Linked DNA regions of Homo sapiens. The protein of the gene in region 1 interacts with the protein of each later gene in a pairwise test. Each region holds a gene or a part of one and is shown in the gene's direction. Other genes may lie near its edges.

The links. Proteins that work in one complex are often made in the same cells at the same time.
Region 2: the proteins of CCDC57 (region 1) and RAB3IL1 interact in binary tests that used the Homo sapiens proteins (3 or more experiments, as listed by UniProt).
Region 3: the proteins of CCDC57 (region 1) and LZTS1 interact in binary tests that used the Homo sapiens proteins (3 or more experiments, as listed by UniProt).
Region 4: the proteins of CCDC57 (region 1) and TSGA10IP interact in binary tests that used the Homo sapiens proteins (3 or more experiments, as listed by UniProt).

Annotation. Positions count from the first base shown.
Region 1 is NC_000017.11:82,167,843-82,171,342, reverse strand, and holds part of CCDC57 (coiled-coil domain-containing protein 57), read left to right. Parts: intron 1-3,500. UniProt on the Homo sapiens protein: Pleiotropic regulator of centriole duplication, mitosis, and ciliogenesis. Critical interface between centrosome and microtubule-mediated cellular processes. Centriole duplication protein required for recruitment of CEP63, CEP152, and PLK4 to the centrosome.
Region 2 is NC_000011.10:61,904,067-61,907,566, reverse strand, and holds part of RAB3IL1 (guanine nucleotide exchange factor for Rab-3A), read left to right. Parts: coding exon 1-2; intron 3-96; coding exon 97-174; intron 175-464; coding exon of another isoform or gene 465-559; intron 560-882; coding exon 883-1,101; intron 1,102-2,684; coding exon 2,685-2,813; intron 2,814-2,908; coding exon 2,909-3,021; intron 3,022-3,500. UniProt on the Homo sapiens protein: Guanine nucleotide exchange factor (GEF) which may activate RAB3A, a GTPase that regulates synaptic vesicle exocytosis. Promotes the exchange of GDP to GTP, converting inactive GDP-bound Rab proteins into their active GTP-bound form.
Region 3 is NC_000008.11:20,245,665-20,248,814, reverse strand, and holds the end of LZTS1 (leucine zipper putative tumor suppressor 1), read left to right. Parts: 3' UTR 1-2,650; downstream 2,651-3,150. UniProt on the Homo sapiens protein: Involved in the regulation of cell growth. May stabilize the active CDC2-cyclin B1 complex and thereby contribute to the regulation of the cell cycle and the prevention of uncontrolled cell proliferation. May act as a tumor suppressor.
Region 4 is NC_000011.10:65,944,144-65,948,279, forward strand, and holds the start of TSGA10IP (testis-specific protein 10-interacting protein), read left to right. Parts: upstream 1-1,336; 5' UTR 1,337-1,532; coding exon 1,533-1,679; exon of another isoform or gene 1,680-1,723; intron 1,724-2,736; coding exon 2,737-2,873; intron 2,874-2,966; coding exon 2,967-3,685; intron 3,686-3,857; coding exon 3,858-4,005; intron 4,006-4,136.

The DNA of each region.
Region 1 (3,500 bases):
GTGAATGGAATTCCTGGAGCTACCTCCAGAGCCCACGTGCCCTGGCTCCTCACTGCAGTCAGCGCTCCCTGTTTTGGTGTGAATGGAATTCCTCGCGCTCCCTCCGGAGCCCACGTGCCCTGGCTCCTCACTGCAGTCAGCGCTCCCTGTTTTGGTGTGAATGGAATTCCTTGTGCTCCCTCCGGAGCCCACGTGCCCTGGCTCCTCACTGCAGTCAGCGCTCCCTGTTTTGGTGTGAATGGAATTCCTTGTGCTCCCTCCGGAGCCCACGTGCCCTGGCTGCTCACTGCAGTCAGCGCTCCCTGTTTTGGTGTGAATGGAATTCTGTGGCACCTGTGCTTCTGTCTGGCGTCTTCAGACCTACACTGTGTTTCACTTGATAATGCCAGATTCTTCTCCAAAGCATCCATCCACATCGTGCGAGGTAGCCGTGGTGCTGCATGCGCGCCAACACTTACGTGGTCAGCGGCTCCTTCTGTTCCCTCTAGTGGACACGTAGCACATCCTATTTTGGTTTAATTTGCAAATTCATGAGATTCGTGGGATTGAACATCTCTTCCTGTGTGCATTGGCGTATGATTGGCTAGGGCTGCCGTAACTCAACACCACAGCCTGAGTGGCTTAAACAACGGTTTTATTTTCTCACTTCTGGAGTCTGGATGTCAGAGATCAGGTTGCCGGCAGGGTGGGTTCCTCCTGAGGCCTCTCTGTGGCTTGCAGACGGCACCCTCTCCCCTGCGTGCTCATGTGGACTCTCCCCCTGCGTGCTCACGTGACTCCTCCCCCGCTGCATGCTCACTCCTGGTGTCTCTTCCTCTTTTTTTTTTTTTTTTTTGGGACAGAGTCTTGCTCTGTTGCCCAGGGTGGAGTGCAGTGGCATGATTTTGGCTCATTGCAGCCTCTGCCTCCCAAGTTCAAGCGATTCTCCTGCCTCAGCCTCCTGAGTAGCTGGGATTACAGGTGCATGCCACCACGCCCGGCTAATTTTTGTATTTTTAGTAGAGATGAGGTTTCACCACGTTGGTCAGGCTGGTCCCGAACTCCTGACCTCGTGATCTGCCTACCTGAGCCTCCCAAAGTGCTGGGATGACAGGCGTGAGACACCGCGCCCGACTCTTCCTCTTCTTGTAAGGACAACAGTCCAGGGCCCCAGCCTTAGGACCTCATGTAACCTTAGCTGCCTCCTCAGAGGCGCTGTCTCCAAATACAGTCATGTTCGGGGTGAGAGCTTCAACCCGTAAATTTTGGGGGGCAGAGCTCAGTCCATAGAATTGGCCTTTCGACAGCCCCTCTTTTGGAGCTCCAGGCCATGTCTTTTGCCCATTGTTTATTGGATCATCTGCCCTTTGTCATAGATTTTTTTAGGGTATTTTATGCTGAATATGAGCCTAGCGTTGGTTATATGTGTTGCAAATATCTTCTCCCAGTCTATGGCTTGCCTTTTATTCCTTCACTGGTGTCTTTGGTGAATGGAAGGTCTTAATTTCAAGACAAACTCATAGGCTAATCTATTCCATTGTGGTTAGTCCAACATCAAAAGGTTCATTCTAGCATTCTAGCTTTCTTTTTCATTATTCTAACTTCCTTTCCCAATAATGAGAAACCTGGCTCGCCCATTATCACTAACACAGTTACTTTGATCGAGTCCTCTTGGTGTAACCAATCCCCCATTGCTGCTGTGGCCCCTTCCCCTATTTGCAGGCCCCTCTCCTGCCTGGATGCCTCCCCAGCATCACCGAGCTTGACAGCCCAGCCTGGCTGCCTTCCACACAGATGCCTTCACCCTGCTGGAGCCACAGCCCCCCTTAGTGTAGGGGAGGCAGGCCCCATCTGCAGGCCTAAGGCAGGAAAAGAAAGGGAGGGGCCAGACAGGACACTCCACTGGCACAGATTGTCTCAAATAGGGGAGGTTTTTGCCGGGCGCAGTGGCTCACGCCTGTAATCCCAGCACTTTGGGAGGCCGAGGTGGGTGGATCACCTGAGGTCGGGAGTTTGAGACCAGCCTGGCCAACATGGTGAAACCCCGTCTCTACTAAAAATACAAAAAAATTAGCTGGGCGTGGTGGCAGGCACCTGTAATCCCAGCCACTTGGGAGGCTGAGGCAGGAGAATCACTTGAACCCAGGAGGCGGAGGTTGCAGTGAGCCGAGATTGCACCACTACACTCCAGCCTAGGTAACAGAGCGAGACTCCATCTCAAAAAAAATAAAGTAAAATAAAATAAGGGAGGTTTTATTTTTCTTTTCCAATGCTGATATTGTTTACTTCTTCTTGCATTATCGCCCCTAGCTAAACTCTCCGGTATGATGTTGATAATAGCTGTCTTTCTCCCTAATCCCAGAGGAAGAACTTTCAGCATTTCACTTTTTTAGGTTGAGTTTTTGCTGAAGGTTTTTTGTGGTGGGGGTAGTGGAGGGAGGTTAAGGAAGTTTCTTTCTATTCCTGTTTTAATATAGATCTTTATTTTTTAAATCACGATTCTTTGTTTTTGTTTCATATATTTTGTATCTTTGTTGTTAGATGTGTATACATTTAGGGTTTTTTTTTTTTAGGATAATTGACCCTTATATTGTTACGTAATCTTCCTCTTTGTCTGGCAACATTCTTTGTTCTGAAGTCTACCTTGTCTGATATTAATTAATCCACTCGGGCTTTCTTTTGATTAGCATTCGCGTGGTATAACTTTTTCATCCCTTTTTCTTTTTACCTACCTCTCTCTTTTATATTTGAAATGAATTTCTTGTTTTTTGAGACGGAGTCTCTGTTGCCCAGGCTGGAGTGCAGTGGCACAATCTCGGCTCACTGCAACCTCTGCCTCCTGGGTTCGAGCGATTCTCATGCCTCAGCCTCCAAAGTAGCTAGGGTTACAGGCATGTGCCACCATGCCCAGCTGGTGGCGTTTGTATTGTTAGTAGAGACAGGGTTTCACCATGTTGGCCAGGCTGGTCTCGAACTTCTGGCCTCAGGTGATCCACTTGCGCTGGCCTCCCAAAGTGCTGGAATTACAGGCGTGAGCCACTGCGCCCGGCCTAAAGACAAAAACTGTTGAAAGCACACAGAGAGAGCGATGCACAGCCCACAGGGGACAGTGACTGGAGCGGTAGTGGGTTCTCAGCAGCAGCTGTCATCAGATTTCTCCTCAGAAGGAAGTGGCATAATATTTTTCAAGTACTGAAAGCAAAAAACTGTCAACCCATAATTATACATTCAGTAAAAATATTCTTCAGGAATGAGAGTGAATAAAGACATTCTCAGATGAAGGAAAAGTTTGTCACCAGCAGACTGGATCTAAAAGAACTGATAAAGGAGGTACTTTAGACACAACAGAAGGAAGGAAACTAGGAATGTCAGGAGTGAAGGAAAACTAATGGCAAGGATGAATATGATAGACATTCTTTCACACTTAACTCTTAAAATTACGTTGACAGGCCGGGCGCCGTGGCTCATGCCTGTCATCCCAGCACTTTGGGAGGCCAAGGCAGGTGGATCACCTGAGGTCA
Region 2 (3,500 bases), on another chromosome or scaffold:
AGGTACACCGGCTGGGCGCGGGAACAACTTGGGGAATGGGTCATCTGGGCGTCCGTTGGCTCCTCACCACTCACGCAGGGACTGCCTTCTTCCTAGGAAGCTCACAAGATGGTTCGAGAAGCCAACATGAAGCAGGCGGCATCAGAAAAGCAGCTGAAGGAGGCTCGGGGCAAGGTGAGGCCCATCCCCGCCTGCCCAGGCCAGCCCAGGCACCCCCCCTGCCTCCCGGCTCAGCGAGCACTGAGCTTTGCTGCCCGAGTGGACGCTCACCTGGCCCGGTGGGGCCAGCAGGAATGGGTGAACCTAGGCCCAGGGAGGGAAGGGAAGGGTGGGGGTCTGAGATCACAGGGCCCAGTGTCCCGGGGCTCCATCAGTGATTCTGCTGCATGGCAGAGCCTTTTCTGGGATAGTGCTGGGGCTGGGAGGACCCTGTGATTATTGTACCTTCTTCCCTCTCCTCCCAGCCCCACTTTACAAAGCAGAAACCTCACTCAGTATGGCTGTCTGAGCCTGGGCAAGTCGCTTCCTCTCTCCAAGCCTGGTTGCCCATCTGCAAAATGTGAGGCCTGGGCCTTTCCTGGCTCCTGGGGGCGGTCCCAGAACTCTCATGGGAGGCCCAGCCAGCTCCCAGACACTTGTTCCTAACAGAATCCTGCTCACAGAGTGACCTTGGGCAGGCCATGTCGCCTCTGTGAGCCTCAGTTTCCCTATGTGTAAAACGAGTGTCTGGGTCTCTGCCTCGAAGGCTGTTCTGAGGGCGTCGGGTGGGACTAAGTGCCTGTCACTGCAGGGGTGCATTGTCCTGAGTTAGGCTGATAGGCGGTGGCAGCCAGGATGGCATCCAGTCTGGGTGAGGGTTGACAGCCATCCCATCCCATGCAGATCGACATGCTGCAGGCAGAGGTGACAGCCTTGAAGACGCTGGTCATCACGTCCACACCAGCCTCTCCCAACCGCGAGCTTCACCCCCAGCTGCTGAGCCCCACCAAGGCCGGGCCCCGAAAGGGCCACTCTCGCCACAAGAGCACCAGCAGCACCCTCTGCCCCGCCGTGTGTCCCGCTGCGGGACACACCCTCACCCCAGACAGAGAGGGCAAGGAGGTGAGGGTGGGAAGCGGGCTCTGGGCACGGGGAAGGGTGGCAGTGCCTGCGGTAGGCAGGGTCCGAGCCCAGTGAGGACCAGCCTGCCCCATGCTGTGTGACCTGGAGCCTGTCCTGCGCCTCTCTGGGATGTGAGGGCTGGGCAGGTCCTTTCTCTCCAACCTCCTGTGATCTGAGGCACTTGGCCTGCAGCCTCCAGGGTATACCATCTGGGGACCTGAGGCCCCCTCCCTGCCCCACTGACTCCAAGCAGTAGGTAGTGGTCTCTGCACCTGAGGCTGGCTTTGGCCCTGAGGATCTGGGGCCTCCACTGAGACACACACTTCCTTGGCCTTAAGAGGCCAAGCAGCAGCCACTGGGCCTCAGGGGAGAGGCTGCCTGGACCCCGTGTGGCCACAGCCTCGAGCCCCAGGACCACCTGGTGACAGCCCTGTGCTCAAGGGGTTTCTGGCACCCTCTGACTGTGGGGCTGAGACAAGCGTGGCCTTTGGAGAGGTGTCTCCGTCCCACCTCAGCTGGCCACACCAGTTGCTGGGCCCAGGCTGGGCTGACACTCATGGTCATGGGTCTGTAGGCAAATGAGGCCACCTGTCAGCACCTCAGCTTTCTCACCTGATAAATGGGGCCTCCCGGGGCTGCTGGAGGAACCAGAGACAGGGACATCAAGAGCTGAGTTCAAGGCTGCACCCAGGTAGTGCCTCAGAGGGCTGTGGTGCCTTCAGCTTCCTGGGTCCCTGGCGCCAGCCCACTCGACTCCATCCTGGCTTCCACCTCTGTCTCCAGGGCCTCCAGGGAAGACGAGCAGGCCCTCATCCACCTCCTGAGCTCTGAGCTTCTGAATGTACATTAACTTCTCCCCTTCCTCCTGTTCTGTCTCTGTGCACCTGTCTACCTGTCTGTCTGTCTGTCTGTCTGTCCATCCGGCCCAGCCCGGGCTGGCCCCGCTGCTCTCCCTGCTCCTCTGCGTGGTCCCCAGCAAGGCGGTTCACCTCACCTACGAGCCGGCCTGGCCGCTCCCACCTGGGGAGCCCCCAGCCCCTGCCTCCACTCCCTCTCCCTCCTTTTCCCGACAGGTAAATGGCTCCAAAGAGGGGCCTCCCACTTTGCCCCCTCCCAGCCTCCCTCATTCTGCATGTGGCCTGGAGCAGGCCAGCAGTCACCTCTGAGGTGTGGGCCCAGGGCAGCCTGTGTGTGTCCCCTCCTGTGTGCACGTGCTTGTGTGTGCTTGTGTACCTGCTGGTACCTGTGGCCTCCTGCTAGTTGCTCTTTGACTTTTCCTCCTCAAGGAGGCACTGAGGGTCTTCAGGACAAAGCCCTGCACCCCACTCTAAAATCCAGTAGCGCCAAGAAATTTAACACCGGCCTGGAAACAAAACTTTTAGTTCTAAATTCTTTGGTGCAAAGGGCAGAAGGGAGCTCTGCTGCTGCTGGACTTGGCTTCCCTGCACGGCTGCTGGGGATCGACCTGCTGGCTTGCTGGGCCTGCCCCACGTCCTCCCTCGCTCCCCTTCAGCTCAGCCTGCATCTTCTATGCTGGCCCCAGTACCCTGACCGCCCCCACCCTCGCTTGCCCTCCCCCACAGGTGGACACAATCCTGTTTGCAGAGTTCCAGGCCTGGAGGGAATCCCCCACCCTGGACAAGACCTGCCCCTTCCTGGAAAGGGTGTACCGAGAGGACGTGGGCCCCTGCCTGGACTTCACAATGCAGGAGGTGAGGCATGGCAGGGGCGGGGCCAGCTGGGGGACACACCCCTCCGCCAGGGCCCAGCCCCTTACCACCCTGCCTGCCTCCCTGGTCTGCCACAGCTCTCGGTGCTGGTACGGGCCGCCGTGGAGGACAACACGCTCACCATTGAGCCGGTGGCTTCGCAGACGCTGCCCACAGTGAAGGTGGCCGAGGTTGACTGTAGCAGCACCAAGTAAGCTGAGGGTCTTAGCTCCTTCCTGCCCATGTGGGAAAGCCCCGCCAAGCCGTGTGTTTACTGTGCCGAGGGGTGGTCAGGATGCAGCAGCGCCGACAGGACAGGGACAGTTGCTGCCCCCACAGGGCAAGGAGGCAGTTTGGCAGGTTTCCTGTGGACCCCCAGGCTTTCCAGAGAGGCCGGGAGCTAGGGTCTGCCTCTTCCTGACTGGTCTGCTCTGTGCCCTCCCCTTCTTTTCTTGAACCATGATTATCAGTTGCTGGCTGTGCCCCTGCCAATAAATAACGACGCAGTAGCCCTGGCATTTGTCCTCCAGCTACTCACCTGGCATTGAGCAGGGGAGCAGCAGAACAAAATAGCCAGGGTGGAGCAAGGGGCAGAAATTGGGGAGGATTTCACCTTGGCAGCCAAGAGCCTGGCTGGGGATGGCTGGTGCCCTGGTGGGAGGCTCATCACGGAGAGGGAGCATTTGAGCC
Region 3 (3,150 bases), on another chromosome or scaffold:
TACCTGCTTCACGTTGGCCGGCGGCTACTCTGGAATGTTTTTCCCTCCCCAGAATCAAGCTTTTGCTTGATCCAGAAGAGCCCATATCACTAAGATGGCATATATGTGATCTGGGCATTTTCCTCCTCTGCCTACAGCCAGGTTTAGCGGCAAACCTTTCCCCCTTAGCACCTTCAGGGCTGAGTTCTGGGTTTCTAGAGGTCAGGACGGCTCCTCAGAGCGCCAGGAAGCCAGAGCCCCAAGCAGGACGAAAAAGAGGCATACACACAGCAGTGTGAATAGCCTGGCCACCAGCCATCCTCCCTCCACCTCAAGACCCCCATTTGTCCCAGACTAAAGGATCCAGAGAGCAGCTCCCTTTCTCAGGAGCTTGGGCAGTGCCCCAGGGAGTCCAGGGTTTCTCTGCAGATGTGCGGAGCGGGAGGCGGTGGTAGAGAGAGATAAAAGGTGGAGTTTCTCTGTTGTTTGGTTCAGGGATTTTATTTTTAATTTTATGAGACAGGGTCTTGCTCTGTCCCCCAGGCTGGAGTGCAGTGGCATGATCATAGCTCACTGCAGCCTCATACTCCTGGGCTCAAGCAATCCTCCTGCCTCAGCCTTCCAACTAGCTGGGACTACAGGTGCGCGCCACCGTGCCTGGCTAACTTTTCATTTTTTTTGTAGGGACGGGGTCTCGTTTTGTTGCCAAAGCTGGTCTCAAACTTGTGGCCTCAAGCAATCCACCTGCCTTGGCCTCCCAAAGTGCTGAGATTGCAGATGTGAGCCACCGTGCCTGGCCAGATTTTTCTTTTATTCTTCTTTCTTTTTCTTTTTTGCTTTCTTGTCTTTTCAGAAGCAAGCCAGACCTAGCAGGCTGTTCCATGTTCTATTTTTGACTGTAGCCACAGCTGCTGTTCTCAGGACAGCATCCCTTCCCACATGCCTGCGCCTGCTGCCTGCTGAGATGAGGAGGGGAGCGTCTGGGAACTTGCGAGTCCAAGGCCAGTCCCCATTTCTGCCTCGCTCACCGCTGGCCCTTAGAGACCCCGAGGTAGGGGTGGGGAGATGCTTCTCTCCTTGCCCCCCGCCCTCATGGGTCCTAGCCCTTCCCTGAGTGCGGGCTGAGGCCAGAGTCACCTTTTCTGTGGCTGGCTCTACCTTCCTGTCCCTGAGGTTAAACGGTGCCCATCCTGCCATCCTCAAACGACAGAGGAGCTTTTCTGGAATTTCAAACCATTGCTCTTAGTCCCAAGCTAGGCTTAAACCTGGAATCTACAAGCCAAAAGTCCCTCCCTGCCTGAGGGCAGTACCCTCCATTGGGCACAGTCCAGACCCAAGTCAAAGATGCCCCATTCCTTGCGCCTCAGCCCTCAGTTCCTTCATTTCCACCAGGCCGTGCCTTGTTTGAGTTTTTCCTCCCAGTGAGACTGCCCCACGGAGACAGAGGAAAGGGCTGGCTCCCCCTCCCCAGGCTGGAGACCCCCCCCCAACTCCAGGAAAGAGCAGTCAGAGTCCAGTGCTCTGCCTCAGACGTTGCCTGAGAAGAAGTGGCTGCCACACCCAGGGGAAGGCCCTGAGGCGGAGGCTGTGCTCCGCCATGGTGTCCCGGTACCTTCCATACACAGAGGAGTGCAGCCTTCTCCATATCTCCATGGCCCTGTCCCAGGCCGGCCCAGATGTGTCCCCCCCAGGCCTTGTCCTACGTCCAAGGTGGCAGATGTCTTCCCTGGGCTGCCACCAGCCCCCGCCCCAGAGTGGCCCACCGTGGCACTAGAATGCAAGTATCCTGCGACCTTGCAACCTCACCTTCCTGTGGGTGTTCTTTCCTGCCCTGTCCAAAAGCGCCCTCACTATTCTTGGACCATGCCAGATTCTGCCTCTCTGGAAAGAGGCTCTGGACAGCAGAAGCCTCCAAGCACAGAGCCTGGCCCCAGGCCCCAGACAGGGTGGGCTTCCTGCCCTTCCCTCTGGGCACGCCTGCTGGCCGACCCACTGACCCACTCGGATGGACCAACCTGCTCTGTCCCCAAAGGACGCCTGCAGGAGAGAGCAGCACTCCGCATCACCTCACCAAGGATCGGACTCTGCCCCTGGACCTGGGAACGACTGGACTGTCACGGGGTTCCCTCCTAGCTCTCCCAGTGAACTCCTGCCAGGCACACACAGCCCCTATAGCACTGAGCTCACATGGGACTGGGATATGGGGGCATCTCTTCCCCAGAGAGGCACTCAGTGAGCCTCCTGTGCCTGGCCCCAGCCTGGGCCATCTCTTAGGTGAGACAGTTGCCCGAAACTAAGCCAGGCCTGGCTGGAGGAGCAGCAGCTTGGGGAGAGGGATTTCCCTGCAGACCTCAAGCCATCATGCGGTGGGTGCTGCCATGACAGAGGCTGCACCCCTGGGCCAGCGGGGCTGCTCACCCACCTCTTGTGCAAGGTGGCCTTTGTGCTGCGCCTGCAGGCAGAGCTGGAGCCCCCAGCAGAGGCAGGCTGGGACGGACCAGCATCTGGAAGATGTACATAGTTATTTTTCTCTTTGTGGTTTCTTGTTTGGTTTGGTTTGCTTTTGACAGCTTCATTTTATTTTTGACGTCACTTTTTGGCCATGTAAACTATTTGTGGCAATTTTATGTTTTTATTTATGAATAAAGAATGCCATTTCTCACGCCCTCTAGAGCCACGTGTATCTGCCCTCCTCTCCCCTCGCTGCGGTGTGGCAGCTCCCTGGGACTTCTCCCCTTGGAACAGGAAAGATGACGTCCCTTCCACCAGCGAAGGGGGTGAGGAAGGCAGCACAGGGCAGTGGGAAAGGGGCCCCCGGGGTCAGACAGGCTTCAGCTGGCCCCTGCCCCCATCGCCTACCCCGGGACCTTATCTGTGAAATGAGAGGAAAAGGGACCCAGGGACAGGTGTCCATGTAGAGTCAGAGCGTCCTCTCCAAAAGAGAGCCCCTCCCCACCCAAACTGCATGCCCTACCGTCTGCTCACCTCACCAGCCAACTCCTGGGTCTACTGCATATGGCCTCCTGGCAAAAGACCAGCATGGCTACAATTGCCACTGCCCCAGGGCCCCCTGGTGGGGCAGGTGCAGTCACCATCATGGCCATCTGTCCAGCCTTCTTGGTTCCAGCCTACCTGGTGCCCCCTTGACAACCTTCCCTACCATCCCGGGCC
Region 4 (4,136 bases), on another chromosome or scaffold:
TTGCACCCAAGCGCTTCCTCTATGCTCTTAGCCATGATGCTCTGCTGCCTCAAAAGAACGGCCAGCTAGTGTTAGTAATAATAACATTTACCGATGTCATCGTTTGGGGTTTCATGTAGTCCTTGCAACAAACCTATGAGCTGGGCCCGTGATTCCAGTTTTGCAGAGTGGGGAGTTGGTCACAGAGCTAGTGAGACCAGGCCTCCAGCCCAGTTGGTCCGTCTCCAGGGCCTCAGCTCAGCACCACATCCCTGTACTGCAAGCCTCAGTGGTCAGCACCAGGCGTCCCATGGGGACTTAAGATTCCAAGGCTTTTGAGCACTGCTAGAAGTTTGGGGTAAGATCTTTTACTTTTTTTATATTAAAAAAATATATTTTTTTGAGATGGAGTCTCACTCTTTCGCCCAGGCTGGAGTACACTGGTGTGGCCTCGGCTCACTGCAACCTCCACCTCCCGGGTTCAAGAGAACCCGGAGAGGGAGAGCCTCAGCCTCCCGAGTAGCTGGGATTACAGGTGCCCACCACCATGCCCGGCTAATTTTTGTATTTTTAGTAGAGATAGAGTTTCAATCCAGGTGGGAGATGGGGTTTCACCATGTTGGCCAGGCTGGTCTCCAACTCCTGACCTCAGGCAATCCGCCCACCTCGGCCTCCCAAAGTGCTGGAATTACAGCCACTGCCCGGCCTGGGGTAAGCTTTCAATGTTGTAACTCCCTCCAGAACCTCATGGCCTATGAAGATGGCCAGGTGGGCCTGGGCCCAGGCTCTGAATGGCCTGCTGCCTCTCTCCTGGACACAGCATTCAACTTCCTGGCTGGGGCTGGGAGTGCAAAGATTTGTTTATTTGTTTCTTTTTTATTGAGACAGAGTCTCACTCTGTCGCCCTGGCTGGAGTGCAGTGGTGCAATCTGGGGTCGATGCAGCCTCTGCCTCCCGGGTTCAAGTGATTCTCGTGCCTCAGCCTGAGTAGCTGGGATTACAGGCATGCGCCACCAGGCCTGGCTAATCTTTTTTGCATTTTTGGTAGAGATGGGGTTTTGCCATTTTGGCCAGGCTGGTCTTGAACTCTTGACCTCCAGTGATCCACCTGCCTCAGCCCCCCAAAGTGCTGGGATTACAGGTGTGAGCCACCACTCCCAGCCTGGGAGTGCAAGGATTTAAATAAAATCTTGTGAAAGTTCAGTTTGGCTCCTTCAGGGACTCGGCCAGGCCGGGGGGCAGCACAGGAGACAGGCTGACTCCCCTGTACAGATGGATGGGGAAACACAGGCAGAGTAGGGACAGGGGACTTACACCAGGTCACACGGGGAGCCTGTGGATGAGGCAGAGGCAGGACTTGGGCCTGGGTCTCTGCGCTAAATGACTCCTGGGCATCCTGCTGAACTCTCTCCCAGAAGGAGATTGGCCTCACATACCCCACTGACCCCTTCCTAGCATGCTTTTTGCCAGACCCATTGAGACTGGCTGAGGACTGGTTGCCATAGAGATGGCCTGTTAGGCAGTTCTACGGTGCGGATGGGGGATGGGGCAGGATGGGGCAGGACACCGATATGCTAAATACCTACCAACAGTTGGTTAGGACCCCGTCGGTGCGACCAGGGCAGGACGTGCGGCTCCAGGCTCCAGGAACCAGAACGGGGCTGCTCAAGCTGCTGTCGACCGTCTCTCAGGACAAGCAGGTGAGGGAGGCCCAGTGAGGACACTTCCAGCTGCCTAGAGCCAGGTGGGTCAGGGAGGCCTGGGCTGGGGAGGCCCTTGAGAAGCCACAAGACCTGAGCTGAGGTCCAGATGAAACTCAGGGAGGCAGGAGTGGGACAGGGACCACAGGGAGGCCTAAGGGCCTTGGGAGAAGCCGAGGGATGACGCCCAGGAGTGACTCCCAGGGATGATGGGGCCATTCAGGGAACACTGCGGAAGGAGCAGGTTTCAGGAAAGATGAAGACCACCTTGATGAAGACCACCTTGGTTTCTGCCTTGGCTGTAGCAGGTCCAGGGCCCAGTGGGACATTTGGGAGTGCAGTCCAGGGCCCAGAGGTGGCCTAGCGCAATGGTGACAAATCTGGGCTCCACCACTTCCCAGCTGTGTGACCTCAGTTACTCAGCCTCTCTGAGCCTCAGCTTTCTCCTCCACATGATGGAGGTGATAGTGAGTACCGGCCTCCTAGGGTCCTTGGGAAGGTTACGTGTGTTTATGCATGAAAGTCCTGAGCACACAATAGGTGCTCAGCAGGTGGCAGCTGTTGCTATTTTAATATGCAGAACGGAGGTGGTGCTCGGTCGGGTTTTTTTGTTTGTTTGTTTTTTTGAGATGGAGTTTCACTCTTGTTGCCCAGGCTGGAGTGCAATGACACAATCTCGGCTCACTGCAGCCTCCAACTCCTAGGTTCAAGCGATTGTCCTGCCTCAGCCTCCCAAGTAGCTAGGATTACAGGCGCAGGCCACCACACTCGGCTAATTTTTTTTGTATTTTTAGTACAGATGGGGTTTCGCCATGTTGGCCAGGCTGGTCTCGAACTCCTGGCCTCAGGTGATCCGCCCCCCTTGGCCTCCCAAAGTGCTGGGGTTACAGGTGTGAGCACCACATCCAGCCCTGTTTGGTTGGTTTTTATGGTAACGAGGGCCCAGAGGGACCCAGCCAGGCCCAGCCAGGTGCACAGAGGGAGCACCCGGGTGAGGTGCAACACAGTCCAGGAGGCTGCTCAAGCTGGCTGCTCCTCCCCTACTGTCTCTGCCCAGGGCTGCCTGGGGAGTGGTGATGGTGTGCCAAATCAAGACCTGCAGCAGAGGTCTCAGAGCTCAAGGCAGACAGCAAAGAAGGACCGCAAGCCCAGGGGCCAGAGCAAGAAAGGACAGGGCTCTGAAGAGTCTGAAGAGTAAGCAGCAGTGGGATGGGTCAGGAGGCTGTTGGGGGTCAGGGCCCTCTGGGGGCTGGCGCCGACCCTGACCCCCACCCTTTCCTTCTTCAGTCACTTCCCGCTTCTTCCTCGGAAACCCTCCTTCCCCTTCCAGTGGGCCTGGGAGAGCATCGCCACAGATGTCCGGGCTGTGCTTCAGCCAAGCTCCCCAACCCCTGGCCACCAAGCCCTGCCCATGCCCTCCTCGTTCTCCCAGCGTCAGTCCAGGCGCAAGTCCACGGCCAACCTCCCAGAGGCCCATGGCTGCTGCTGGAAGACAGAGGCGCAAAACCTGAAGGCGAGACAGCAGCTGGGAGCCTGGGGCGGTGTCTCCATCCCTACTGGCAAAGGGGAGCTAGGATCAGAGCCCCCCAGTGGTCTCCAGCTGCCTGGGAGGAGGCCAGGATCAGGATCGGCGTCCGACAAGCAGGTCCAGCTGCAAAGCCTGGGTGCTGAGGAGGCCGAGAGGGGTCTGAGTTCTGGGGTGCTGCCCCAGCGCCCCAGGAGGGGGTCGATCTCAGAGGAGGAGCAATTTTCAGAGGCCACAGAGGAGGCTGAGGAGGGAGAGCACAGGACTCCCTGCAGAAGGAGGGCTGGTTGTCAGAGAAAGGGGCAGATTTCTGGAGAGGAAGCCTCCGATGAGGGAGAAGTGCAGGGCCAGAGCCAGGGGAGCAGCCCCAGCTTCAACAACCTCCGAAGGCGACAATGGAGGAAGACAAGGGCCAAGGAGCTGCAGGGGCCATGGGACCTGGAGAAGCTGCACAGGCAGCTACAGAGAGACCTGGACTGTGGTGAGCGTGGGGCTCAGAGCCTGGATTCCCCCGAAGCTACACCGCAGGGAACAGGGAGCAGTCAGGGAGGCAGGGGCTCAGGCAGGCTGGGCTGTGCTCTGGGTGCTGGGGGGCGTTGCCTGGTGGGCTGAGAGGGAGAGGGCAGCCCCTGACTTGGTCCCACTGTGGGCAGGCCCCCAAAAGCTGCCCTGGAAGACTTTGAGGGCTGCCTTCCAGGCCTCCAAGCGGAATGGAAAGGCCTATGCCTCGGGATACGATGAAACTTTCGTGTCTGCCAACCTCCCTAATCGCACCTTCCACAAACGACAGGAAGCCACCAGGTAAGAGGGAAGAGAAGGGAGTGGGAGCCCAGAATGAGAAGTAGAGATGGAGCCACTTCTCCAAGAGATGCTTAGGCATTTGAACTCTCATTCATTTCTTTATTTATCCATTCACCAAACTTTTGGATCAT